7 separate regions of the Homo sapiens genome follow, and regions 1, 3, 4, 5, 6 and 7 are each linked to region 2. Evidence: fine-mapped expression QTL. A gene starts in region 2. Each other region holds a variant in brackets. All regions are shown on one strand. Distances are from middle to middle. Region 1 overlaps TAOK3 (TAO kinase 3). Region 2 holds the start of PEBP1 (phosphatidylethanolamine binding protein 1). Region 3 overlaps LOC101928274 (a long non-coding RNA gene). Region 4 overlaps TAOK3 (TAO kinase 3). Region 5 overlaps TAOK3 (TAO kinase 3). Region 6 overlaps TAOK3 (TAO kinase 3). Region 7 overlaps TAOK3 (TAO kinase 3).

Evidence for each region. PIP is the estimated chance that this variant, and not a neighbour inherited with it, causes the effect.
Region 1: its variant is the best candidate, but not a certain one, in a credible set for the expression of PEBP1 in prefrontal cortex (CommonMind, PIP 0.82).
Region 3: its variant is the best candidate, but not a certain one, in a credible set for the expression of PEBP1 in whole blood (TOPMed, PIP 0.56).
Region 4: its variant is the best candidate, but not a certain one, in a credible set for the expression of PEBP1 in monocytes after LPS (Quach 2016, PIP 0.51).
Region 5: its variant is the best candidate, but not a certain one, in a credible set for the expression of PEBP1 in whole blood (TOPMed, PIP 0.88).
Region 6: its variant is the best candidate, but not a certain one, in a credible set for the expression of PEBP1 in blood mononuclear cells (TOPMed, PIP 0.56).
Region 7: its variant is the best candidate, but not a certain one, in a credible set for the expression of PEBP1 in whole blood (INTERVAL, PIP 0.56).

The regions. Positions count from the first base shown.
Region 1 is chr12:118,196,353-118,200,419 of GRCh38, forward strand. TAOK3 (TAO kinase 3) reads right to left here. Exons shown (of 21, transcript NM_016281.4): 13 at 2,699-2,905. Among named protein-coding and RNA genes, the nearest start is that of PEBP1, 62 kb to the left of the region's middle. The variant C/T (reference allele first, on the strand shown) is at 2,037.
Region 2 is chr12:118,133,807-118,137,873 of GRCh38, forward strand. PEBP1 (phosphatidylethanolamine binding protein 1) reads left to right here and starts at 2,318. Exons shown (of 4, transcript NM_002567.4): 1 at 2,318-2,538. The coding sequence starts at 2,404. It overlaps LOC101928274 (a long non-coding RNA gene), which reads right to left and starts at 2,186. Exons shown (of 4, transcript XR_945409.4): 1 at 2,051-2,186. RefSeq lists an enhancer at 2,113-2,613 and a silencer at 2,606-2,695.
Region 3 is chr12:118,111,970-118,116,036 of GRCh38, forward strand. LOC101928274 (a long non-coding RNA gene) reads right to left here. Exons shown (of 4, transcript XR_945409.4): 4 at 2,376-4,067. Among named protein-coding and RNA genes, the nearest start is that of VSIG10, 10 kb to the left of the region's middle. The variant T/G (reference allele first, on the strand shown) is at 2,412.
Region 4 is chr12:118,242,678-118,246,744 of GRCh38, forward strand. It overlaps TAOK3 (TAO kinase 3), which reads right to left. Exons shown (of 21, transcript NM_016281.4): 4 at 2,217-2,288; 5 at 738-839. It also overlaps the pseudogene RPS2P5. Among named protein-coding and RNA genes, the nearest start is that of PEBP1, 110 kb to the left of the region's middle. The variant C/T (reference allele first, on the strand shown) is at 1,856.
Region 5 is chr12:118,202,326-118,206,392 of GRCh38, forward strand. All of the region lies in intron 11 of TAOK3 (TAO kinase 3), which reads right to left. Among named protein-coding and RNA genes, the nearest start is that of PEBP1, 68 kb to the left of the region's middle. The variant C/T (reference allele first, on the strand shown) is at 2,475.
Region 6 is chr12:118,250,744-118,254,810 of GRCh38, forward strand. The region is part of intron 3 of TAOK3 (TAO kinase 3); the gene reads right to left. Among named protein-coding and RNA genes, the nearest start is that of PEBP1, 120 kb to the left of the region's middle. The variant G/A (reference allele first, on the strand shown) is at 2,003.
Region 7 is chr12:118,172,813-118,176,879 of GRCh38, forward strand. The region is part of intron 16 of TAOK3 (TAO kinase 3); the gene reads right to left. Among named protein-coding and RNA genes, the nearest start is that of PEBP1, 39 kb to the left of the region's middle. The variant G/A (reference allele first, on the strand shown) is at 1,997.

The sequences.
Region 1 (4,067 bases), 63 kb after region 2:
CTTCTTTGAAAAAGCAAATTTATTTCCTATCTAAAATGGTAATCTGTTTCAGATCTGTTTTGACTACCAGTCAAATTAATTTGACTAATTTAAGATATGTCTGCTTGTGAGCCGAGATTGCACCACTGCACTCCAGCCTGGGCAACACAGTGAGACTCTGTCTCCAAAAATTAAAAAAAGAAAAGAAAAGATATATCTGCTTGATTATAACAATCAAGGGACAAAAGATTCCTTCTCCCATATTCATATATTTTGGTATTTATTAAGCACGTTCTTATTGTGTTGGGTACTCATTTAACTTTCATTTAACTATTATTTAACTTTCTCAAACTGTAAAGATAGCTAAGATTATTTAATCCTTTTGATCCATTATGTTCAATGAACCAGTAGAGTATGATATTTAATATTTGGTAATTAATTTATTCCCTGCCTTCTTTTTGGTTTTGTTGGTCTATTCATTCATTCCACAGTTATTTACTGAGCATCTATGCTGCGCCAGGCACTATTCTAGGTATTGGATTTGTTATTTGTCCAAAGTAAAATAAAACTAACAGAGGCAGATAGAACTATAAATTAGTTTCCTCATTCCTAAGTTTAATATACAAAATTTTCTGTTGAGAGTTAAAAATCCTATTTATGTTCCCAAGTGAAAAAGTGTTAGGAATTTGAGTAAACCATCCAATACAAACTTCATGAATAATTTTTATTTCTATTGTTTTTAAAGATAACATATTTTAAAGCTCAGGTACAAGAACTAAATGGATTTCATGAAAAGATACCATATCTTAAGTTTTCATATATATTCTATTTTTTGAGCTCACTTACATTTTAAAGGTAACTCATCCAAAGTTTTATTTGCAAATGTGTTTTGATTTTCTTCCATCATATTTCCTCTATATATTTCATGATAAAATAGGAATATATAACTTAAATTCTTCCTGACCTATATATTTTTTGTGGATCAAATGCAATTATCTTCTACTTCAGAATATAAATTTTATCTGTTCTACTTAAGTCATCACACATCAGGGAGAGAAAAGTATTGAAACACTCATATTATCACAAGGTAGGTCTATGACAGCATGCAAAAATAAAATTAAAAATCCCATTAGTTCTAGACCAGGGTTTTCTTTCTTGTTGATTATGCCAGTAGTGTCTTTCTTCTAATTCTGGTTGCCTATCTGAGAAGTCCTGGAGCAAAAAGATCCAACTGAATTCCTCTCTTTTGCCCCCTCTACTCATAGAGCCCCAGGGGTAATAGAAAGGAAAGTGCCAGACCTGTCAGCACTCATGATCACTCCCTCCAAAAAGACAGCCCAGCAAAACCTTCTTTTTTTTTTTTTTTTTTTTTTTGAGACGGAGTCTCACTGTGTTGCCCAAGCTGGAGTGCAGTGGCGCAATCCTGGCTCACTGCAAGCTCCGCCTCCCAGGTTCACGCCATTCTCCTGCCTCAGCCTCCCGAGTAGCTGGGACTACAGGTGCCTACCACCACACCCGGCTAATTTTTTGTATTTTTAGTAGAGACGGGGTTTCACCATGTTAGCCGGGATGGTCTCGATCTCCTGACCTCGTGATCCGCCCACCTCGGCCATTGCGCCTGGCCTCAAAACCTTCTTTTTTACTCTTCAAATACATGATCACTTGCCCATGTTGAAAGGACACCAGCTGGCAATGCTGATCTCTTGGTAGATTTCTGCATCTGTCTGACATCTTTGCTTTCCTCAAATTGCTTCCATGTCTTCCTGATAATCTGGGTCCTTTGCTGTCTCTCTGGTCCTGAGGCACTGTCCACATAGCACACCAGCCATAGCTTCTATGGCCTTCCCCTTTTCCTTGAACATACAAAGCTCTCTCTGTCTCAGTGCTCTTGTACTTGTTGCTTTCTGACTCATCCCCATCTCTTACCCCAGCTGGCTAGCTTCTATTTGTTTTTGAAATTTCTGCTTAAATGTCACCTCATCAGGTAGGCTTTTCTTACTCCCTGCTAGAGTAAGTCCTCCTTTTACCCGAGGCAAGTTTCTTTCTTTCTTCTTCTT[C/T]TTTTTTTTTTTTTTTTTTTTTGAGTCTCACTCTGTTGCCCAGGCTGGAGTGCAATGGCGCGATCTCGGCTCACTACAACCTCTGCCTCCTGGGTTCAAGCAATTCTCCTGCCTCAGCCTCTCGAGTAGCTGGGATTACAGGCATATGTCACCAGGCCCGGCTATTTTTTGTATTTTTAGTAAAGACGGGGTTTCGCCATGTTGGCCAGGCTGGTCTCAAACTCCTGACCTCAAGTGATCCACCCGCCTAGGCCTCCCAAAGGGCTGGGATTACAGATGTGAGCCACCACGCCCAGCCAAGAAACATACTTTTGAAAGAGCATACTTCTAAAAGGGCACAACCAACAGGTACACTCAGGAAGACTTGAAGGTCTACAGTATTAAGATTATTGGTTTAGAGAAGGACTTATCAAATTCTTCAACTTATTTATTGATGATGATGGACATCAGAGTAATGAGAGAGGGAGATGAAGAAATAGGCACAGATGTAGCCTGTGTAGTCCTTTGTTACTTTTTGACTGTAAGAAAACTGTCACATGCCAGGTTTAGTACCACACTGCAGTTGCAAAAAGGTAACTGAAACATCTGGAAGCTAAGTGACTTGAACTGGATTCGCTATGATTGACAAAGCTCACCTCTGTGGAGGGTACCAAGAAACCTACTTTCTTATGCACGACGGAGGAGCTGGAATTGATTGTGCTTTCGTCATCGTGCATCATGACAAGTTCGGAACTGCTCTCGTCCATGACTTCCTGCATGCTGTTCACACTGCTGCTCTGGCTGCCTGTGCTCACGGACATGCTTGGAATGGAATGGTTGCTGCCCAGGCTGTCCATTTCCCTGTTCAGGCTGGTTCCATGTTCACTGTCCTGTAAAAATGGGGCACTGAGGTTAGAAAAAAAGACTGAAGATAAAGAGTCAATCCATTGACAAAAGTGTCAAGCACACTCAATTTTGCAGTGTCAAGTTGCTTTTCTGCCAATCTGCAAAGACAAACTTTTTATGTACTGGCTCCACTACTCCTCCACCATTTTCATACATCTCATATTTGCTTCCTATGCCTTCCCCAGGGGCCATTCTGGACGTGGGTCATAAGGCTCCAAATGCTGCCATCCCAGGGCTTTCCCCTGTCATACACACTATCATATTATCGTGTTGCTATTCAGTAAGCAAAATCAAGCCAGGTTTGTAAGGGACCTTCTGGAACATCAAGGAGCTAGAGGAAGACTGCTGGCCACTAAACAGGTGAGCTCTAGGATATCTTCAAATACAGCAGTGGTCACTTGAAAAAGTAGAGTGGAAAGAGTTTTCAGATATTTGACAAGCAATATGCTCCCTCTGCAAGTCATTATTGAGTAACTTCATATCTAAGCAGAAATATTAATTCTACTTTCCTGGACAGGTAATTAAAGTCTGCCTCCCTCAAGCGATTCTATCATGCTTATCTCTGTAATCTTATTATATATATCTGTTAAATAATACTGGTATTCATCATTACTGGCCCAAAGACTACTATTTGAAAAGTGGTAAAATAATCAGAACATATAATTTATCCATCACAGTGGGATATCTTTTGATATAAGATTGAATAATAAAATTAAATCCATTTAGCTACAAATAAACCTTGTTCTCAAAAAACCATATGGTACACATATAACTTTAATAAACTGTTACTTAGCCATGGCAATATAAAAAATTACTGGGTAATATAAAATGGAAGATAATACATTATTTTTAACAGACTTATTTTCCCAATTAAAGGGGATCATTTCTATATATGCAATCAAGAAATTTTATAGTTCAATGCAACTTTCCGAGCTTCATTTTTAAAATTATTGATAAAATACTTTTATGTTTATTTTATTTTCTGTTAAAAAGCTAAAATACTCCTGTTCTTGTTATGTCTACGTTCTGAAATCCTGCCTCTTTAACTATATCCCTTTCTTCTATCTTCGGTGCCTCTGACTCTGCCCTGGCTCCATCTCTACTGCATTTAAAGATGAAGAAGCCTGCCTTATATTTATGGATCTC
Region 2 (4,067 bases):
ATGGTGCATCTAGAGAAGTCATTAAAATGTTGAAGACTTTTTTTATTTTGCTTTATTTTTGTAGAGATAGGGTCTCACTCTGTCGCCCAGGCTGGAGTGCAGTGGCACAATCACGGCTCACTGCAGCCTCAAACTCCCAGGCTCAAGTGATCCTCCTGCCTCAGCCTTGGTAGTAGCTGTGACTACCGGCACATCCCTCCATACCGGGCTAATTTTTGTATTTTGTTGTAGAGATGGGGTTTCACCATGTTGTCCCGGCTGGTCTCAAACTCCTGGACTCAAGTGATCCTCCTGCCTCAGCCTCCCAAAGTGCTAGGATTAGAGGCCTCAGCAACCGCACCTGGCCTGACGACCTATTTTTGATATGACTATTTTATAATGGTAGGATATAATGCAATCTTTTGGTGAATAAACAACAAAATCATCTATACTCATATTATTTTTAAATAGGAAAGATATACCCTAAATGATTACTGACGTTTATAACAAAGTAGTGGGATAGAAGGGGATTTCTACTTCTTTGGGTTTTTTTCTTTGATTTTCTACAATGAACTCGTATTATTTCCTAGTAAGAATGTAAATCAAGAGACAACTTTTTATTCCATGGGAGGAATTATCAATGTCAAGAGTCAAAACAGATAAGAACTGTTAAATAGTGCTTATTGGCTGGGCGCGGTGGCTTATTGCCTGTAATCCCAGCAGTTTGGGAGGCTGAGGCAGGCGAATCATGAGGTCAGGAGTTCGAGACCAGCCTGGCCAACATGGTGAAACTCTGTCTCTACTAAAAATACAAAAATTAGCTGGGCGCGGTGCCGCCTGCCTGTAATCCCAGCTACTCGGGAGGCTGAGACAGGAGAATTGCTTGAACCCGGGAGGCAGAGGTTGCAGTGAGCTGAGATCACGCCACTGCACTCCAGCCTGGGCGACAGAGCAAGACTCCGTCTCAAAAAAAAAAAAAAAAAATAGTGCTTATCATATTCAGCAAAAAGCAAGCAGCTTGTGGTCACAGTAAGAGCAGTTTTGGTATGAATAAATATGGTTTAAAATTGTTTTTCAAAAAACAAACATAAAAAACCAAAACCCAAACATTTCTCAGGAATTTTGTGAGGACGAATTTTGTGTGTGGAGAAAACGGACAAATACATTTCCCCATATATTTAAATGCTCAAAAGTTCACTCAGGTGCTCTCACCAGGCAATTACTATGACAAGTGATCACGTGCGAAAATACAGAGAATCTGGCTCGTTTTAAAGTGCAGGAGAAAAGCAAGGCCTTACTGTTTCTGAATTTGCTGTGTGTGTGTGTGTGTGTGTGTGTGTGTGTGTGTGTGTGTATGAGAAGATGGGATCTGGCTCTGAAGCGCAGACAGGAGTGCAGTGGCAAGATCGTAGCTCACCGCGGCCTCAAACTCCTAGATTCAAGAAGTGATCGGCCGGGCGTGGTGGTTCACGCCTGTAATCCCAGCACTTTGAGAGGCCGAGGTCAGGAGATCAAGATCATCGTGGCTAACACGGTGAAATCCCGTCTCTACTAAAAATACAAAAAATTAGCCGGGCGTGGTGGCGGGCGCCTGTAGTCACAGCTACTCGGGAGGCTGAAGCAGGAGAATGGCGTGAACCCGGGAGGCGCAGCTTGCAGTGAGCCGAGATCACGCCACTGCACTCCAGCCTGGTCAACACAGAGAGACTCCGTCTCAAAAAAAAAAAAAAAAAAAAGTGATCCTCCCGCCCCAGCCTCCGGAGTAGCTAGGACTACAAGCATGCACCACTGTGTCTGGCTTTTTTCTTTTTTTCTTTTTTTTTAAGTTTTCTGTAAAGACGGGGTCTTGCTACCTTGTCCAGGATGGTCTCAAACTCCTGGGCTCAAGCGATCTTCCTGCTTTGGCCTCCCAAAGTGCTGGGAATACAGGCATGAGCCACCGCGACAGGCCATGTTGCTGAATTTGGAAAGTGGAGCAAAGAATCATGCAAAAAATTAAGAAAACCAAAACGCAACCAAGGCGAATTCAATTGCATTTTTTTTTCCCAGCGACACTTTCTGAGACACGAACCTCTCTCTTCGGCGAACCTATTCCAGGGCGCCCTTCATTTTCATTTCTTGAAACAACAGCCTTGCAGGCCGAGCCGCTGTTCCCGAGAACTCGGCAGCCACAGGGAGCAGGTTGCATGGACCCAGGAGCGCGAGAGGCCCTGCTCTGCCAGCTTCGGCCAATCAGAGGCCAGGGAGCGGTGGGCGTGACGTGGGGCGGTGCGCGGGGCTGGGCGGCGGCTGAGGCGCGTGCTCTCGCGTGGTCGCTGGGTCTGCGTCTTCCCGAGCCAGTGTGCTGAGCTCTCCGCGTCGCCTCTGTCGCCCGCGCCTGGCCTACCGCGGCACTCCCGGCTGCACGCTCTGCTTGGCCTCGCCATGCCGGTGGACCTCAGCAAGTGGTCCGGGCCCTTGAGCCTGCAAGAAGTGGACGAGCAGCCGCAGCACCCGCTGCATGTCACCTACGCCGGGGCGGCGGTGGACGAGCTGGGCAAAGTGCTGACGCCCACCCAGGTACACCGGGCGGCGGGCGTGCAGCGAGCGGCACGGCGCGGAGGCCTGTGCCGGCCTCCTGGGTGGGACCCAGCGGAGACAGGGCCAGGGGCGGTGGGGAGGTTCAGCCTGCGTGTGTCGAGGCCCCCCCAGGCCAGAGGTCCCGGGGTCCATGTCCCATGCCTGGGGGCCACCCCGAGCACCGGGAACCCGGCCTGTGGCGTGGCCAGGCAGGTTCGGCCTGCGGCAGAAATTCATTCACTTTTCCCGGGCTTCAGACCCAAGAGGGACCTAGGTTCGGAAACAGGCCGGATCCCCCTCTCCCCCCACAGGCCAGGGCGCTGGAGAGGGACGTCGCCGGGACAGAGTAGGCTGTGGCTGCCCGGACGCCCCCAGAGCTTCCCCTAGGGCCTCAGCATTTTAGGCCTGGTTTTGGAGGGCTGAAGCCTCACCCGAGAGCCTGTGACGCATTATGTAACTGGCGATGAGCGCGCCGGCCGATTTCTCCTTTGTTAAATGGGTCGAGAGCGTCCAGCCGGTACGCTGGAGGGCAACGGTTTAGTTTTGGTCTTTGACCTCCCACGCCCACGGCTGGGGCTGCCGAAAGTGAAGAAACTAGATTTGCAGACGCCACTGCTAGTTGGTTATGAAGCTCCGGGCAACAGCGTAAAATAAACTGCCCCGACCTTACATTGTTTTGGATGTTCACAGAATTTAATTTTTTTGGATGTTTAAATATGTAGTGCCCATCTAACACAGCCTCCCTTTTCCTGCTCCCTGCCCGCCTCTCATCACCTTGGCTTTCTCCTTTTCTTTGCACTTTGAAACGTACAGTTAATGCAGATTTCACTTCAGCAGGCTCCAGGTAACCTCCTGATCACCAAATCCAGAAACGCTGTGATTCCGGACAGACAATGTAAGGGTGTCGTTGAGAGGGGACTCAGTGCCAGGGTTGGAATCCCAGCCTTATCTGTTTCTCTTAATAGTGTGCTGGGATACTAGCCCCATGGTGTTGTTGGGACTGAAATAATATACAGCCTGGGCAACATAGCAAGACCCCAACTCTACAAAAAAAAATTGGCCAGGTGTGATGGTGTGAGCATGTAGTTCCCAGCTGCTCAGGAGGCTGAGGTGGGAGGATCGATCGATTGAGCGCTGGAGGTTGAGGCTACAGTGAGCCTTGATAGCGTCACTACACTCCGGCCTGAGTGACAGAAGGAGACCTGGTCTCAAATAAAATACATAACGTATATAAAACTCCAGCTCCTGGCTCTTACAGTCAATACAGGGTCATTGATTTTATTAAAAATCTATTCTGTTTTGTCTTTGGAGAGTCTGAGATCAAAGAAAGAGTATTGGTTTCTTCAGCATTTCTTGTTTTTGAGACAGAGTCTCACTCTGTCGCCCAGGCTGGAGTGCAGTGGGGTGATCTTGGCCGCCTGCAGCCTCTGCCTCCCCAGCTCAAGTGATCCTCCCACCTCAGCCTCCCGAGTAGCTGGGATTACAGATTCCCGCCACCATGCCCAGCTAATTTTTGTAGTTTTAGTAGA
Region 3 (4,067 bases), 22 kb before region 2:
ATTTGTATGGCTTATTTTATTTTATTTTTTGTAATTTGAGACAGAGGAGTCTGTTGCCAGGCTGGAGTGCAGTGCACAATTTCGGCTCACTACAACTTCCGCCTTCTGGGTTCAAGCGAGTCTCCTGCCTCAGCCTCCCAAGTAGCTGGGACTACAGGCACATGCCACCATGCCCAGATAATTTTTGTATTTTTAGTAGAGACAGGGTTTCACCATGTTGGCCAGAATGGTCTCGATCTCTTGACCTCATGATCTGCCCGCCTCAGCCTCCCAAAGTGCTGGGATTACAGGCGTGAGCCACTGCGCCCGGCCATATGGCTTAAGTTTTATCATTAGGTATGTAATCCTATATAAAATTTTTTTTTTTTGAGATGGAGTTTCACTCTTGTTGCCCAGGCTGGAGCGCAGTGGCGTGATCTCCGCTCACTGCAACCTCCGCCTCCTGGGTTGAAGTGATTCTCCTGCCTCAGCCTCCTGAGTAGCTGGGATTACAGGCATACGCCACCACCCCTGGCTAATTTTTTTTTTTTTTTTTTGAGACGGAGTCTTGCTCTGTCGCCCAGGCCGGAGTGCAATGGCGCGATCTCGGCTCACTGCAACCTCCGCCTCCTAGGTTCAAGTGATTCTCCTGCCTTAGCCTCCCAAGTAGCTGGGATTACAGGCACCCACCACACCCAGCTAATTTTTGTATTTTTAGTAGAGACGAGGTTTCACCATGTTGGCCAGGCTAGTCTCAAACTCCTGACCTCAGGTGATCCGCCTGCCTTGGCCTCCCAAAGTGCTGGGATTACAGGCGTGAGCCACCGCACCCAGCCTAATTTTGTATTTTTAATAGAGATGGGGTTTCACCATGTTGGTCAGGCTGGTCTCAAACTCTTGAACTCAGGTGATCCACCTGCCTCAGTCTCCCAAAGTGCTGGGATTACAGTCATGAGCCGCCACACCTGGCCAAATTATTTTTTTTTGTATGGTGTTATGGTCAGAATATTTGTGTCCCCTCAAAACTCATATGTTGAAATTCAAATCCCTAAGTTAATGGTATTAGCTAGAGGGGCCTTTGGAAGGGGATAAGGTCATGAGTGTGGAACCCTCATGAATGGGATTAGTGCCCTTATGAAAGACACCCAAAGGAGCTTGTTCACTTCTTCCACCATGTGAAGATACAGTGAAAAGACAGCCATCTATGAACCAGAGAGTGGACCCCCACCAGACACCAAGTTTGCCAGCACCTTGATCTTGGACTTCCCAGCCTCCCAAACTGTAAGAAATACATTTATGTTGTTCATAAGCCAATAAATAAATAGATTATTAAAAATTTAAAAATTAGCCAGGCATAGTGGTGCATGCTTGTAGCTCTGACTACTCTGGAAGCTGAATCAGGAGGCTCACTTGAGCCCAGGAGTTCAAGACTTCAGTGAGCCATGATCATACTACCACACTCCAGCCTAGGCAATAGAGTGAGATCCTGTCTCAAAAGACAAAAAACAGTAAGTGAAGCAAACAAACAAGAAAAAATCCAAGCAATTTATAGTGAAATTCTCCTTGAAAGAAAGCCTTTTGGCTGGGCGCGGTGGCTCACACCTGTAATCCCAGCACTTTGGGAGGCTATGGTGGGAGGATCACCTGAGGTCCAGGAGTTCGAGACCAGCCTGGCCAACATGGTGAAACGCTGTCTCTACTAAAAATACAAAAAAATTAGCTGGGCGTGGTGGCGGGTGCCTGTAATCCCAGCTACTCGGGAGGGTGAGGCAGGAGAATCACTTCAACCTGAGAGCCGGAGGTTGCAGTGAGCCAAGAATGCATCATTGTGCTCCAGCCTGGGTGACAAGAGTGAAACTCTGTCTCAAAAAAAAGAAAAAAAAAATAGAGAAAGAAACCCTTTTGTCCACCCCAAACCCCTAGTCTTCTTCCCCAGTGACGAGCTGTCTCACCAACTTCCATAGACTACAGTCTTTACTGTTTACCTAATATGCCCCTGTCGGAATATCATACAGCCATTAACACTTGTGTTTTCCAGTTTTTTTTTTTTTTAGAGAGCTGGGGTCTCACTCTGTTGCCTAGGCTGGAGTGCCACGGCACACTTATCAAACTCCTGGGCTCAAATGATCTTCCCACGTCAGCCTCCTGAGTAGTTGAGACTACAGACCCTCACCACCATGCCTGGCCAATTTTTAAAATTTGTAGAGATGGAGTCTCAGTATGTTGCCCAGGCTGGTCTCAAACTCCTGGGTCAAGCAATAATCTTACCTCAGCCTCCCAAAGTGTTGGGATTACAGGCATGAGCCACTGCGCCTGGCAATTTGTATTTTTAAAGTTTATGTAACAATAAAGATCCCTCTATTGTGATTATCCAGATTTGTAACATTCAGTAAAAGTTTTTTTGATAGCAGCTTTATTTTTATTTTATTTTA[T/G]TTTGAGACAGAGTCTTCCTTCGTAGCCCAGGCTGGAGTGCAGTGGCTCAATCTTGGCTTACTGCAATCTCCGCTTCCCAGGTTCAAGTGATTCTCCTGCCTCAGCCTCCCGAGTACCTGGGATTACAGGTGCTCAACACCACACCCGGCTAATTTTTGTATTTTTTAATTAGAGATGGGGTTTTACCATATTGGCCAGGCTGGTCTTGAACTCCTGACCTCAGGTGATCCACCTGCCTTGGCCTCCCAAAGTGCTGGGATTACAGGCATGAGCCACCACCCTCTGCTGATAACAGCTTTATTGAGATATAATTCATCCCATAGAACTCTCTCAGTTAAAGTCTACAATTCAATGGCTTTTAGCATAGTCACAAGGTTGTACAACCATAACTACCATCAATTTTAGATTTTCATCACTCCAGAAAGACACCCCATACCCTTTAGCTATCACCTTGCTATGGTTTGAATGTGTCCTCCAAAAGTTCATGTGTTGGAAACTCAGTCCCTCTACCCTCAAGAATGGATTAGTGTTGCCATCGTGGGAGTGGTTTTGTTATAAAAGCAAGCGCTCTCTGGCTCTCTTGCTCTTGTCCTCTTGCCATGTGATGCCCTCTGTTATGTTATGATACAGCAAGAAGGTCCTCACCAGATGCTTGTTCCATGCTCTTGGACTTCTCAGTCTCCAGAACCATGTACTAAATATACTTTTTTTCTTTATAAATTACCCTACCCAGTCTGTGGTATATATGCAACAGAAAACAGGCTAAGACACACTCACAATTTCCCCACCCCCTCCAACCCCCAGCAATCATGAATCTACTTTCTGTCTCTATGGTTTTGCCTATTCCAGACATTTCATGTTAACAGAAGCAAGCAATATATGTTGTGACTGGCTTCTTTCACTTAACGCAATGTTCTCAAGGTTCATCTACATTGTAGCTTGTATCAATACTTCATTTCATTTTATGGCCAAATTATATTCTGTTGTATGGAGATGTTAGTAGCAGTGAATCCATACGGGCCTGCAGCAACCTGAATCCTTGCCTCCTCAGAAGAGAGAATTCAACCAAGGGGCATAAGACAGAGTAAGAAACCAAGGCAAGTTTCACAGCAGGAGTGAAAGTTTATTAAAAAGTTTTAGCTGGGCATGGTGGCTCACGCCTGTAATCCCAGCACTTTGGGAGGTGGGCAGAACACCTGAGGTCCGGAGTTCGAGACCAGCCTGACCAACATGGAGAAACCCTGTCTCTACTAAAAATATAAAATTAGCCGGGCATGATGGCACATGCCTATAATCCCAGCTACTCGGGAGGCTGAGGCAGGAGAATGGCTTGAACCTGGGAGGTGGAGGTTGCTGTGAGCTGAGATCGCGCCATTGCACTCCAGCCTGAGCAACAAGAGCGAAACTCCGTCTCAAAAAAAAAAAAAAAAAAGTTTTAGAACAGGAATGCAAGGAAATAAAGTACACGTGGAAGAGGGCCAGTAGGGACCTTGAGAGATTCAAGTGCATGGTTTGACCTTTGACTTGTGGTTTTATATGTTGGCAGTCTGCATGTACAATGGCCTGCCAGCACTTGGGAGGGGCTGCATGTGAGTGTGTTTACTGAAGCTATATGTGTGCTCACTTGAGGTGTTCTTCCCTTATCAGTTGAGTGT
Region 4 (4,067 bases), 110 kb after region 2:
GGTGAACCCTATCTCTACTAAAAATACAAAAAATTAGCTGGGTGTGGTGGCATGTGCCTGTAGTCCCAGCTACTCAGGAGGCTGAGGTTCAAGAATCACTTGAACCCAGGAGGCAGAGGTTGTAGTCAGCTGAGATCGCACCACTGCACTCCAGCCTGGGCAACAAGAGTGAATCTGTCTCCAAACAAACAAACAAACAAACAAAATATATATATATATATGAGTGTGTGTGTGTCTGTGTGTGTGTGCATGTGTATATATATTTATATATATATATCACAATAAGATGACAGAGTGGAACAAAAGTCTCTTATTTTAATCATATGGTGGCCCCTGTTTGGTAAAAATCACATAGCAATTAAAACATCAAGAACAATTCCAAATATGGGGGGAACTGGAGTGGAGGATGAGAAATGACAAAGATAAAAATTCTAGGATGAGAATATAAGGCTGTGCCTTTTACTTTTACAAACAAATAATTATAAAATGATGTCAACTTTTCACCATCTCTTTCTGAGTGTTTATAGAATGGAATTTCTAATAGGCTAGATATCATTTAATCTTACAGAATATATACCAAGTGACACACCAAAGTATTAACAAATGTTAAATACTGATAACAAAAGTTAAATGGAACAGAAATGAAATTAGTAATTTTACAGATCAAATAGATAATAGAAAAAAAAGAAAAAGAAAAAAATGTAATAGTAAAAGATAATAGAGGTCCTTCGACTTACCCAAGCAGTGTGTTCTTTCAAGTAACAGCCTTTGTACTCAATAGTATTAGGATGCTTCAATTGTCGTAAAAATTTAACTTCCTTAAGAATATCTTGCCATTTCTATTGAAGTCAGAAAAGGAACATTTTAATTTAATTTTTGATAGGAAAATAGTATTTCCTATCAAGTATACGTATATATCATTTATATTATTGTAAATGGACATAAAGTAAATGTTTAATAAATGAAGAAGCTATTTAAACATGCTATTTCTTTCTCTCTCTCTTTTTGTTTTTAATTGAGACAGAGTCTTGCTCTATCGCCCAGGCTGGACTGCAGTGGCACGATCTCGGCTCACTGCAACCTCTGCTGCCCGGTTCAAGGTTCAAGTGATTCTCGTGCCTCCCAAGTAGCTGGGACTACAGGCGTGCACCACCAGACCAAACTAATTTTTTTGTATTTTTAGTAGAGACGAGGTTTCTCCGTGTTGGCCAGGCTGGTCTCGAACTCCTGACCTCAGGTGATCCGCCCACCTTGGCCTCCCAAAGTGCTGGGATCACAGGCGTGAGACACTGTGCCCGGCCTAAACATGCCATTTCTTTAGTTTGAATACATGTAAACACAAATCTATCACCAAATACATTACAAAAAAGCCATTACACATACCCATGTTCTGGTCTGCAAAATAGTTTTTTTCCTTTTCAGGCACCCAGGCTAGAGTACAGTGTTGCAGTCACAGCTCACTGAAGCCTCCACATCCCAGGCTCAAGCAATCTTCCCACTTGAGCCTCCCGAGTGGCTGGACTACAGGCACACACCACCACACCCAGCTAGTTTGTTTGATGTTTTGTAGAGGTGGGGTCTCACCATATTGCCCAGGCTTGTCTTGAGCTCCTGGGCTCAAGCGATCCTCCAGCCTTGGCTTCCCAAAGTGCTGGGATTACAGGCCTAAGCCACCTCATCCAGCCTGCAAAATAGTTAATTGAGCTAGAACATTAGCCTTTTTAAAAATAATTATGAATGTTCACACATTTGTATGAAAAACTTCAGGAACTTTTATTATATGCTCCACAAGAAGGAAAAAAAAATTGTTCTAAAAAAAAGTTTAAAGAATTTTGTTAATTTCTTTTTTCTTTTT[C/T]TTTTTTTTTTTTTGAGACAGAGCCTCGCTCTGTCACCCAGGCTGGAGTGCAGCGGCGTGATCTCGGCTCACTGCAAGCTCCGCCTCCCGGGTTCACGCCATTCTCCTGCCTCAGTCTCCTGAGTAGCTGGGACTACAGGCGCCCGCCACCACGCCCGGCTAATTTTTTGTATTTTTAGTAGAGATGGGGTTTCATCATGTTAGCCAGGATGGTCTCAATCTCCCGACCTCGTGAGCCGCCCACCTCGGCCTCGCAAAGTGCTGGGATTACAGGCGTGAACCACCGCGCCCGGCCAGAATTTTGTTAATTTCATACTAACTTGTTTATTTCAGTTTAGGTATACAACTGTCTCTATCTCACCTCATGGGTCTGCTTCCCACTATAGGACATCTTCTTAATTGCCACCACCTCACTGGTGTGAGCATTTGTAGCCTGTGTTAAGAGGGTAGAAGAAAAAGAAAAAGAATTAGTGATGTTTCAGCCAATTTAACTTAAATATTTGACTAGAGACTATTTATTTATATATTTATTTATTGACAGTCTCATTCTGTCGCTCAGGCTGGAGTGCAGCTCACTGCAACCTCTACCTCTTGGGTTCAAGCGATTCTCCTGTTTCAGCCTCCCAAGCAGCAGGGATTACAGGCACGCACCACCATGCCACGCTAATGTTTTTTGTATTTTTAGTAGAAATGGGGTTCCACCATGTTGACCAGGCTGGTCTTAAACTCCTGACTTCAAATGATCCGCCCGCCTCGGCCTCCCAAAGTGCTGAGATTACAGGTGTTTTATTTTATTTTTGGAGAAAGAATCGAGCTGTGTTGCTCATGCTGGAGTGCACTGGGGCACGATCTTGGCTCACTGTAGCCTCTGCCTCCCGGGTTCAAGCTATTCTCCTGCTTCAGCCTCTCAAGTAACTGCGGATTATAGGCACCCACCACCACACCTGGCTAATTTTTATATTTTTAGTAGAGATGGGGTTTCACCATTTTGGCCAGGCTGGTCTCAAACTCCTGACCTCACGTGATCTGCCCGCCTCAGCCTCCCAAAGTGCTGGGATTACAGACGTTAGCCACCGTGCCTGGCCTCATATTATATTTAAAATAATATCTCCATACTGCAGTATCACAGTTCAAAGATGCTTCACTTTTTGATAGGCTAAATAGACATCTCCACTCCCATTTTAATGTATAGTTTATCTATATTCTTTTCTGGATACATGTAAAGATTGTAATATAAAAAATGATTAGGGTTTAATATATCAAACCAAACAAAAAATGTCATATTCCCAAATGACCCATTCTGGCTTCACCTTGTAAACTGTCCATCAATGGAGAACCAGTTAAATAAATAAATATGATATGACCATATAATAAAATAACCACTTAAGGAATGAGGTAATCTATGTGCAATGCAATATGAAAAGATGTTAAAAATGTTTTGGTCAAAAACAAGCTATAAAGTAGAATCCAATTTTTGCAAAATAGTAATAATGTGAGTATACGTGTAGAAAAAATTATAAAAGAATTGCTTCTTTTCCGAGAAAACAACAAATGGCGGATGACGCCGGTGCAGCGGGGGGGCACGGAGGCCCTGGTGGCCCTGGGATGGGGAACCGCGGTGGCTTCCGCGGAGGTTTCGGCAGTGGCATCCGGGGCCGGGGTCGCGGCCGTGGACGGGGCCGGGGCCGAGGCCGCGGAGCTCGCGGAGGCAAGGCCGAGGATAAGGAGTGGATGCCCGTCACCAAGTTGGGCCGCTTGGTCAAGGACATGAAGATCAAGTCCCTGGAGGAGATCTATCTCTTCTCCCTGCCCATTAAGGAATCAGAGATCATTGATTTCTTCCTGGGGGCCTCTCTCAAGGATGAGGTTTTGAAGATTATGCCAGTGCAGAAGCAGACCCGTGCCAGCCAGCGCACCAGGTTCAAGGCGTTTGTTGCTATCGGGGACTACAATGGCCACGTCGGTCTGGGTGTTAAGTGCTCCAAGGAGGTGGCCACCGCCATCCGTGGGGCCATCATCCTGGCCAAGCTCTCCATTGTCCCCGTGCGCAGAGGCTACTGGGGGAACAAGATCGGCAAGCCCCACACTGTCCCTTGCAAGGTGACAGGCCGCTGCGGCTCTGTGCTGGTGCGCCTCATCCCTGCACCCAGGGGCACTGGCATCGTCTCCGCACCTGTGCCTAAGAAGCTGCTCATGATGGCTGGTATCGATG
Region 5 (4,067 bases), 69 kb after region 2:
TGGGGGCACAGGTATTTTTATGAGGTGCTGACTTCATTTTCTTCAGGTATATAACCAGCAGGGGGATTATTGGAACAAATTAACATTTTGTTTTTTGGGTTTTGGAGGAACCTCCATACTGTTTTCCATAATGGCAACCCCAATCTACATTCCCACCAACAGTATATAAGGATTCCCTTTTCTCTATACCCTTGCCACTTATTATCGCTTATCTTTTTTGATAATAGCCATTCTAACAGGTGTGAGGTGATACCTCATTGTGGTTTTCATTTCCATTTCCAATAATTAGTGAATGTTGAGTATCTTTTCATATAAGAATTCTTGAGGTTTACTTTATCATATAAGTAATAAAAAAATCACTAGAACTTTAAGAAGTAGGAGGTAGGCTTGTACCTTTTAAATCTGAAACTACATAATAAGCAGAAGCAATGCATAGTATAGTCTATTCTTTTTTTTTTTTTTTTTTTTTTTTGAGATGGAGTCTCGCTCTCTCACCCAAGCTGGAGTGCAGTGGTGCGATCTTGGCTCACTGCAACCTCCACCTCCTGGGTTCAGGTAATTCTCCTGACTCAGCCTCCCGAGTAGCTGGAATTACAGGCATGCACCACCATGCCTGGCTAATTTTTGTATTTTTAGTAGAGACGAGGTTTCACCATGTTGCCTTGGCTGGTCTTAAACTCCTGAGCTCAAGTGATCCACCCGCCTCAGCCTCCCAAAGTGTTGGGATTACAGGCGTGAGCCACCGCACCGCACCTTGTTCTATTCTTATTATAACTTGCCTCAATCCTCACCCCCATACACACTATCCCTTGAAAAACAGACTTGTGAATATTTTGTTCTCTATTTCTGTGGCCGTATAGTGTATGCTTGAAAATATGCCAGTTGTTCAATTTATCCAGAGGTCAAAATTCTGGCAACTTCATTTCCCCAATTAAAAAAAAGGGTCTCTGAGGAGTGAAAACAACTGCCCTAAAGTCCATAAATTAATCTTGATATAAACATCCCTCACTTTCAATATTATTAATGATTGTTACATAATCTGGTTTCCTAGTTTCTCAGCCCATAGCAGGTTAGACAGAGAATAAGAATGGAGAAGTAAGCCTGGCGCGGTGGCTCACGCCTATAATCCAACACTTTGGGAGGCTGAGGCGGGTGGATTACTGGAGATCAGGAGTTCAAGACCAGCCTGGCCAACATGGTGAAACCCTTTCTCTACTAAAAATACAAAATTAACTGGGCATGGTGACGTGCATCTGTAATCCCAGCTACTCGGGATGCTGAGGCAGCAGAATTGCTTGAACCTGGGAGGCAGAAGTTACGGTAAGCTGAGATCACACCATTGCACTCCAGCCTGGGCAAAAAGAGTGAAACTCCATCTCAAAAAAAAAAAAAAAAGAGTGAGGAGTAAAGGATTGAGGACTGGGAAAGGTAGGGTTACCACCTGTTGTAAAAAGAAGTAGCTTTTGTAAGTTCTCTGACAGCTTGAGAGTAGAGAAACAGAGAGAAATTTCATGACTAACAGACCTATCAACCAAACAAATAATAATAAAACAGGTTTGTGGGCTATTTTGCAAAAGGGCAAATGCCCCTTATATAGCCCCTTTTATGCCTCAAGAGTTCACGAAACACTGTTTCTGAGCCCTCAAGAAGTGACATTAGGCTGGGCGTGGTGGCTCACATCTGTAATCCCAGCACTTTGGAAGGCCGAGGCAGGCTGATCACTTGAGGTCAGGAGTTTGAGACTAGCCTGGCCAACATGGTGAAACCCCGTCTCTACTAAAAACACAAAAAATTAGCTGGGCATTGTGATGCATGCCTGTAATCCCAGCAAGCCAGGAGGCTGAGGCAGGAGAATGGCTTGAATCTGGGAGGCAGAGGTTGCAGTGAGCCGAGATTGCACCACAGCACTCTAGCCTGGGTGACAGAATGGAAAAAAAAAAAAAAAAGACATTATTTTTTAAAGGCAAAAGTTCAGTTATGTGGAAAATTTACTTATGTAAAATTGTAATTTGAAGACATTGGGAAAATGAGATATAATGTAGTGGGCCTTAGCTGATGAAATGAATTTAATTTCTTTATAATTTAAACAGATAAAAAATAATAGGGCCCTTGTGAGAAAACAATCTATATGTCTTGTGGTTCTGCATTCTGACTCTCTTAGAGGAATTGTGGTTTTTGCTGTTGCTTTTATAAAATACCTCTTCCTAGGTAGAGTCCTTTTTGAATAAAAAACATCATTCCCAGAAGCAAGTGTAGCCTGCACATTTCAAGGATGAGAAAGAAAGGAAGAAAGTATTATCATTTTCCTCCTCTAGTGCTTACAATTATAAAGAGCTAATCGGTTTTTAGTAAACTTAAAGCTATGACTTAACATCATAGAATTTTAGAACGGGAATGCCTCTTAGAAAACTTTCTGTTTCAAGGCTGGGCATGGTGGCTCATTCCTGTAATCCCGGAACTTTGGGAGGCCAAGG[C/T]GGGCAGATCACCTGAGACTAAGAGTTCAAGAGCTGCCTGGCCAACATGGCAAACCCCCATCTCTACTAAAAACACCAAAATTAGGGACCGGGCATGGTGGCTCACAACTGTAATCCCAGCACTTGGGGAGGCCGAGGCAGGGGGATCACATGAGGTCAGGAGTATCAAAGACCAGCTTGGCCAACATGATGAAACTCCGTCTCTACTAAAAATACAAAAATTAGCAGGGCATGTTGGCACGTGCCTGTAGTCCCAGCTACTCGGGAGGCTGAGGCAGGAGAATTGCTTGAACTTGGGAGAAGGAGGCTGAAGTGAGCCGAGATCATGCCACTGCACTCCAGCCTAGGTGATAGAGTGAGACTCTGTTTAAAAAAAATAAAAATAATAAATAAGAAGTAAAAATAAAAAATACCAAAATTAGCCAGGCGTGGTAGTGCCCGCCTATAGTCCCAGGTACTCGGGAGGCTGAGGCACGAGAATCAATTGAGTCTGGGAGACAGATCTTGCAATGAGCCGAGATCAGGCCACTGCACTCCAGCCTGGGTGACATAGAAAGACTCTGTCTCAAAAAAAAAAAAAGAAAGAAAATTTTTCTTTTTCAAAGTGAGAAAATTTGGGCCCTGAGAAGTTAGGTGATTTCCATAGCTAATTAGTAGAAGAGCTACGGCTGCAACTCAGGCTTTAAAAATTTTTTTCTGCCAGGGGTGTGGGTGGTGGTGGTTATTTTCTGGTGTCCTACTACCATAATTATCTTTCTAAAATACAGGTATGATCATTCATTGCAACAGATACTACATGTCATTCCCCCATTCCAACTTCTTTTTTTTTGAGACAAAGTCTTACTCTATCACCCAGGCTAGAGTGCAGTGGTGCAATCTCAGCTCGCTGCAAACTCTGCCTCCCAGGTTCAAGTGATTCTTGTGCCTCAGCCTCCCCAGTAGCTGGGATTACAGGCGTGCACCATTACGCCCAACTACTTTTTGTATTTTTAGTAGAGATGGGGTTTCACTATGTTGGCCAGGCTGGTCTCAAACTCCTGACCTTAGGTGATCCACCCACCTCAGCCTCCCAAAGTGCTGGGATTACAGGCATGAGCCACAGCTTTCAGACCCAATCTCTCTCTCTCTCTTTTTTTTTTTTTTGCCTTACTTGAAGCACTAGGAAGTAAAGGAACTGAACCCAAGCCTTCTTTGTGGTTACAGATCACTAAGTGACTAAGTTCTGGCCAGTGAGAGGTAGGCAGAAGTTCTCAAGGAAGGTTTTATTTTCTAGAATAAAAAGGCAAGACACATGAGGACAAGGTGTTTTACCCTTTGTTCTCTCTCCTTCTTCCTGCCTGGAATGAAAACTTGAGTCATGGCAATGTAGCAGCCATTTTATGACAAAGACAATAAAAGCTACATGCTAAGGATGGTGAAGTAGAAAGAGAGAAAGAGCTTGGGTCGATGACGACATTGTTGAGCTGCTTAGAGCTTTGGACTGCTTACGCCACTTCCTTTTCCAATGTCCTGGACTTCCTATTACATGAGATAAACTCTTACCTGTTTAAACCTTTTACAAACAGATACACTCTACATCTTAATATCTCACTG
Region 6 (4,067 bases), 120 kb after region 2:
TGCAATTCTGATATGTGCCACAAAGAAGGGTATTTGTTACTTTGAGAACCAACAACGGTGGATGTGACTTAGGGAGGTCAGGAAAGCCTTCCCTGAAGAAATGAGGTTTAGGCTGAGAGCTAAATGATGAACAGGAGTTAAGAAGGTGAAAATAGAAGGGAGAAATATTCGAGAGAGAACAGTTTACGCAAGATTCCAGGAAGGATGATCAGAAGAAAGGAATCAGAGCTACAGCAATGAGAATGAGAGAGAAGATAGCTCAAGTAGAGATAGGGACCATGAAGGACCTTGTGGGCTGGCTATAGTAGGGATTTTGATCTTGGCCTAAGAACGAGGGAGAGCCCCTAAAGGCTTTATAGGGAAAGGGGATGGGATGAGATTTACATTTCTTTTTTCAAGCTCATCGAGGTATGCACAACAGACTGAAGAGACCAAAGCAGGCAATCATAGTTGTCCAAATAAGAGATAGCAGAGTCTTCCTGGTAATAATGGTACAAGTAACAAAAGGAAAAATCTATTAGCACGGAGTAAGAAGCAACTTATATAAATACTACTTTGGCCAACAGGAAAATCCATTTTTAAGGTACTGCCCATGTGACCACTACAGATAAAAGGTTAAAGCTTTTCGTAAGTTCTATAGTACAGTGTCAGTTAATTCCCTTTTAATCTGTTTTTTAGTGCTTTATGGGTGTACATAGGCCTGTACTTTTCACATTTATATACAGGCCCTATAGAGTTAATGATTACGTTTATCAATGCCACTCTGCTACCTGTATCATTTCTCTAGTCTATCATCAGCAACAAATAATATATATTTAGTGCCTACTGTAAATGAGATCGTGCCAGCCTTTAGAGTTGTAAACAAATATTAGAAATAGTCCTCACCTTCAAAAACGCACACACTCTAGCTAAATAGACAGGGCTTAGCCCAAAAAGCAAATAAACCACTAGGTCTTCTGCAGCCTAGTACAACGTAGGTCTCATTTTGCCACTATTATAAATGGCTTTTAGTAAGTTTCAAAGCATGCTTGGTTTATTGTAGTCATTCTGAAACATTAGCACTTTAAGAAGGGTTTGGCTGCTTTTTTTTTTTTTTGAGACAGAGTCTCACTCTGTCCCCCAGGCTGGAGTGCAGTGGCACAATCTCAGCTCACTGCAAGCTCCACCTCCCGGGTTCATGCCATTCTCCTGCCTCAGCCTCCCCAGTAGCTGGGACTACAGGCGCCCGCCACCATGCCTGGCTAATTTTTTGTATTTTTAGTAGAGATGGGGTTTCACCATGTTAGCCAGGATGGTCTCGATCTCCTGACCTCGTGATCCACCCGCCTCGGCCTCCCAAGTGCTGGGACTACAGGCATGAGCCACTGCACCCGGCCTTGGCTGCTTTTTAAATGAGAAGAGTCAAATAGAGACTGACTCTTGCCAGGAGAGATTCTGAGAAGATGAATTAGATTTAAAATAATAGAAGAAAAGAAAGCAAAGATGACAGAAGAATACATCTGTAAGCAAAACAAACAGGTCACAAATGAATATATACAGATGTTTCCATTTTTAAAAAGTTCAAAACTAAGCAAAACCAATTTACATTTTTAGGAGTACAGATTAAGTGGGTTATAACTATAAAGAAAAGTAAGAAAATAATCACCATAAAAATCAGAATGGTGGATACTCTTAAGGGGACGGAGAGGGTTCTGACTGAGGGAGACATAAAGAGGGGCTTTTGGGATGCTGGCAGTATTGTATTTCTTGATCTGGGTGGTGTTTTTACACAGAGATTTACCTTTTAATTCTTTCTGAAGTTCTATATTAAAATAGATATGTATATTGTATATACTTCTTTATGTATACTTATAATAAAAACGCTTTGTTAACAAGAGGACCTGAGACTAAAGAAGACAGAACTTTGGGCCTTAAATGATATTCTGACTACACACTAACAAGGGAGTGTTAACTAAGAAATTAGCACCCTTTTTTCTTTTCTTTTTTTTTTTTTTGAGACAGA[G/A]TCTCACTCTGTCCCCCAGGCTGGAGTGCAGTGGCACAATCTTGGCTCACTGCAAGCTCTGCCTCCCGAGTTCACGCCATTCTCCTGCCTCAGCCTCCCGAGTAGCTAAGTAGCTAAGTACAGGCGTCCACCACCATGTCCGGCTAAGTTTTTCTATTTTTCAGTAGAGACGGGGTTTCTCCGTGTTAGCCAGGATAGTCTCGAACTCTTGACCTCGTGATCCGCCTGCCTCAGCCTCCTAAAGTGCTGGGATTACAGGCGTGAGCCACTGCGCCCAGCCGAAATTAGCACCCTTTTCAGCCAGAAAAATCTTTTATTGTATTTAATGACAAAATATACTTCAGTGGGAGCCAAGTTATTGATGGTAGTGAGGGAAGCAGAAGTAATGGTAGGGCTGAGCATAGACGCAGTGGTTGAGAAACAGTTTAGAGAAAATCCAGGCTGAAGATTTGGCTAGAAGCAAAAGGACAAAGTAAAGATGCAATTCATAAAATAATCTCATTTGGAAGGACAACTAAAGATAAGCCCTATCCAGATGGCAGAACATAAAGGACCACTTAAAATGGAAGAGTCAGTAATGTTTGATTACAAAGAAATTATTTGATTACAAGTTTGGAGAAGTAGGTAATAATTAGTACTTAATTTATTATTTGCTTTAATGGACTATTATGCTTAAGGAAGTATTTGTTAAATTAAATAACTATATTTTGGCCTGGCACGGTGGCTCACGCCTGTAATCCCAGCACTTTGGGGAGGCCGAGACGGGTAGATCACCTGAAGTCAGGAGTTTAAGACCAGCCTGGCCAACACAGTAAAACCCCATCTCTACAAAAATACAAAAATTAGCCTGGCATGATGGCAGGTGTCTGTAATCCCAGCTACTCAGGAGGCTGAGGCGGGAGAATTGCTTGAACCCGGGAGGTGGAGGTTGTAGTGAGCCGAGATTGTGCCACTGCACTCCAGCCTGGGCGACAGAGCAAGACTGTCTTAAAACAAACAAACAAACAAACAAAAAAAAAAAAACAGGGCCCGGTGCAGTGGCTCACGCCTGTAATCCCACCACTTTGGGAGGCCGAGGTGGTCAGATCACGAGGTCAGTTCAAGACCAGCCTGGCCAACATGGTGAAACCCGGTCTCTACTAAAAATACAAAAATTAGCTGAGCGTGGTGGCACATGCCTGTAATCCCAGCTATGTGGAAGGCTGACGCAGGAGAATTGCTTGAACTGGGATCCAGGAGGCGGAGGTTGCAGTGAGCCAAGATCGTGCCACTGTACTCCAGCCTGGGCTACAGAGCGAGGCTCTGTCTCAAAAAACAAACAAAAGAACAAACAAACTGTATTTTATGTAATGAATTTCAGGTGAATAAGCTGTGTTAAAATTTTGGCTATTTGTTTTTCTCATCAGGAGATAGTCACATTCTTGGAACTAAAACTGATTCTAGGGGTACAGCCTTGTACCCCTTAAACGAAAATACTGACTTGACATGATTGCCACTAAAAATCACTGTCAGTCCCTTTCTCTGAATAGTTGTCTGTTCATCTGTTTATCTGTCTATCCACCATCCATCCATCCATCCATCCATCCATCCACCCATCCATTATTTATCAAATTCCTACTACTGTCAGGCATATACTAGTTCTTGAGTCTGTAACGATGAACAAGATAGACATAAACCCTGTCCTCATGACACTTGTTATTTAGGGAAAAAGACATATATAAAGCAAAAAATCGTATACGTAATTGTTTTATTACAACTGTGATAAATGCAACAAAATATAAGAACAAGATGTTATGAAATCATAAAGTATTGATTTAGGGGTGGAGTCTTGAACAGTAAAGGGTATCTTGCAAAAGTAATACTTAAGGTAAAACTTGTAGGATGAACGGACAGGCATGGGGATGTAATGTGCAGAGTTTTCTAGGTGGGGTAATAGCACATATAAGGCTCTGAGGCAGGAAAGAGCTTAGCATACAGTGGAAATGCACAAAGCTCAACTTCAAGCTCTTAACTTTTTTTTTTTATTTTTTGAGACGGAGTCTCACTCTGTTGCCCAGGCCAGAGT
Region 7 (4,067 bases), 39 kb after region 2:
TTTGCTCATTAATTGAGTATTAAGTGAGAGGGACACTTGTGAGTTTCTGTATCTTTGGTTTCTCACTAACAGAAATTATTTGTTCACTCATTCACTCAACACAAACTTAACAAGCTCCTATCATGTGACAGGCAGTGTGCAAGATACAGGACACAAAGGTGAGTAAAAGGCCATGATAACTGCCACCGTGTGTCTTTATTATAGAATCAAAAATTAAAGAACCGCAGAAATGAACTAAAAATTACTGTGATCACTGCTTTGAAGAGGACGTACTTGGCCCTAGAAGAATTTAATAGAAAATATTTAATCTTGGTAGTAACTAAGAAAAATTATTCAGAGTTAACCAGCGGAAAAGGAAAGGGAAGAATACTCTCAGTAGAGAAAACAGCATGTGCAAAACCCTAGGGGTTGGAGAGGAAACATGGTGCCATCAAGGGCTGAAAGAAGGTCAGAGGGGCTGGTGTAACGTAATATGAGATAAGTCTGGCCAGGTAGGCAGGACCATTGAGGCTTTACAGGCCAATATAAGGACACTGATCTTTAGTATAGGAGAAATGGATTTCATGCATGTGAGAGTGTCATAATGAGATGCATTTGAAAATGATTACTCTGGCTGCCATGGGGAGAACAGAATGAAGGAGGCAAGAACATATGAAGATAGCTGGGAGGCTACTGGAAAGGTCCAGGCAAGAGAGATGGTAGTAGCTTGGACAAAGGAAGTAGTGACAAGACTGAGAGAAGCAGACAGATTCCAAAGAGAAGAGGTGACTATGCAAATGTCACTAGTTTGAATTTTAGGAAAAAACATTCTTCACTTGGGATTATAGAGTAAACAAACCATCTATATTTTCCAAGGACAAAATTCACAATTTTTCCAGAACATCTGAGCAAAGGAAACAAAGCAGTGAATCAGGACTGTTAAGATGTTAAACTGTGGTGAAAAGAAGAAGACTACTTGTTAAGAAAGTACAGTATACTCTTCTTTCTTCATTTGGTTAGCTACTCACTCAGCTAAAATCTCCTTTAGTTGCTAACACCTATTTTACTTAATGTTTTGTGATGCCGATATCATAGACTATTTTATCTCTTAGCCAAGAAGTCTCTGTAAATCAACTTTCAACTATCCTGTTCCAGTGAAGCTGTAAGTGAAATCTTAGAATCAACAAGAGAAAGTGTTGTTTTCAGAGTAAGCTGGAGTAAGCTGGGATCACAAGAGGAAGCCTGGGTCATTCATCTCTTCATGCCGTGATGTCACTACTTGGTTGGCCATTAACCACTAGACTGCAGACCCCGATTCAAATATAATCACAAAAATTTACTCCAAAATCAAGAATAAATTATTTCTGGACCATCTATCATTCTGTATTAGATACTCCTGTTATCTATCAAAAGTGGTGATAATGAAAAAATTTTTTTGTCATTCCAAGGACAATATCTGTAAGTATATAAATATCTAAATATATATGCCACTTTAAATAGTCTGAACTAAGCTTTACTTCAGAAAAAGTAATATTAGCTTTTGCATAGAATGGTCTAGTGGGGTTATCTCAAATTGGCTTCTGGCTTTTTTTTTTTTTTCATGAGCATGTTCAAAGACAGAAGTGTAGGCCTGTGGGCTTTGGCACTCAAGTCTGAGTATGGTGAGCCAAAAATTGACGTATGCTTGAGGACTGAGTGGGGACTCTTAAATGCTGTTCTGTGGGAAAATCTTCTAGAAGGTAGAGTTCATGAAATTTCCAAATATCTCAATGTTACAAAAACTCAAAATGGTGGCCATAGTCATAAAGTATGGCCTCCAGTGGATGAGTGGACGCGTGGAGTTAGAAATAAGGAAGGTATCTATTTATTTTATTTTACGATTTTTTTTTGAGACAGAGTCTTACTCTGTTGCCCAGGCTGGAGTGCAGTGGTGTGATCTCGGCTTACTGCAACCTCTGCCTCCTGTATTCAAGCAATTTGTCCTGCCTCAACCTCCTGAGTAGCTGGGATTACAGGC[G/A]CCCGCCATCAAGCTCAGCTAATTTTGTATTTTTATAGAGATGTCGTTTTACCATGTTGGCCAGGCTGGTCTTGAACTCCTGACCTCAGTTGATCCACCCACCTTGGCCTCCCAAAGTGCTGGGATTACAGGCATGAGCCACCGTGCCCAGCCAAGGAAGGTATTTAGAGTGGAGAAAAACCTCAAAATTTCTTAGGCTATCTCTGATCCAGCAACATCATATTATGATATAAAAATTAAGCTCAAGCCAATAACTCAGAGAAAATGGAAAGAATGTGAACCTTCTGAGTTGGGCTATTCTCTCTACACCCGGGTTTTCTAGACCTTATGGTGTCAGAGATTCTACCCATTCAGCCAGTGTAAATCAAATACAATTTTCTGTTAGGTCTAACAATTACCAGTGGCTTACCTGGGCAGGACAAAAAATCCCTAGGCCCACCCCAACCCCCTTGGTTTCACTTCCTAACTAAAAAAGAATTGGAGGAGAACCTTGCTGAGTCCTCTATTGCTAACCTACAAATCAGAATATGAGCTCAGGCCAGGCGTGGTGGCTCACGCCTGTAATCTCAGCACTTTGGGAGGCTGAGGTGAAGGATTACCTGAGGTCAGGAGTTCAAGACCAGCCTGGCTAACATGGTGAAACTCTGTTTCTACTAAAAATACAAAAAATTAGCTGGGCATGGTGGTGCACGCCTGTAATCTCGGCTACTTGGGAGGCTGAAGCAGGAGAGTTGCTTGAACCCGGGAGGTGGAGGTTGCAGTGAGCCGAGACTATGACATTGCACTCCAGCTTGGGCAACAAGAGCGAAACTCCATCTCAAAAGAAAAAAAAATAAAGAATATGAGCTCAAACACATGATTTTATATATACTAAAACAATGCGCCATATTGAATTTTATTAAACCTTAATACACTTAGTAAGTCTACAAATAAGAAATACTAAGGTTTATGAGAAGAAAAGTCCATGGAGCTGCAGACGATTCACCTGTAAGTACTGGTAAAAGGAGAACTGAAGAAATTTGAGCTTTCAGATCAAAGTGCAGTTCTTTGGGAAGAACTCCTAAGTCCACTAGTGGTCTTCAACCAAATATTCCAGAATCAATCATTCATTTACCAAATATTCATGTGTACAGGGCACAGGGATACAGTTGTGAGCAAACAAAAACATGGTCTGTGCTCTTATGATGCTTACCAGTTAGTAGAGTAAGTAGCTCAAATAATCATTAAACAAATGTATAATTAAAGGCTCTAGTTAGGAAACCAGAGACATCTGTCTTGGCTGAGGCAGTTAGAAAAGGCTTCCTTAGGAAAGTGACATTTAAGTTAAGATCCTAATAACCAATCCCGCATTGCACAAGGAGGAGAAGTAGGAATTAACCGAGCAAAATTGTGGTCAGGGAGGGCTTGGGGGTAGGGAGAACATCTTGGTGGAAGAAACAGTATGTGGAAAGACCTTGGGGAAGGGTGGAGCTTGATAAATTTGAGGAACTGAAAGGTGACCATGGTGGCTGGTGCAGCGAAGAGTGGGTTGAGGGTAGGGGCAGCATTAGTGTGAGATGTCACTGAACGAGTAGGCTAGGAGGGGACTGTGTAGGGACTTCTAGGATTTTGACTTGTCCTAAAAGCAATGGGAAGACAATGGATTTCAAAACTATGCAGTAGAATGACCAGATTTATGGTTTGAAAAGATCACTTTGACTGATGTGGAAAATACATAGGAAGAAGACAAGAATGGTTTAGAGTTATATCAATGGTTCTTGAAATGTGGTCCCTGAAGCAGTAGCAGCAGCGTCATCTGGGAGCTTGTTAGAAACACAAATTTTCAAACTCTACCCCAGAAAATCTAGGGATAGATTTTTAAAATCTGAAAATCAGTCAGATAAAAAAATAAATAAATAAATAAAATAAAATCTGAAAATCTGGGGGTGGGTTAGCAATCTGTTTTAATAGCATTTTAGGTAATTTTTTTTTTTTTGAGACAGAGTTTTGCTCTTGTCGCCCAGACTGGAGTGCAGTGGTGCGATCTCAGCTCACTGCAACCTCTGCCTCTTGGGTTCAGGTGATTCTCCTG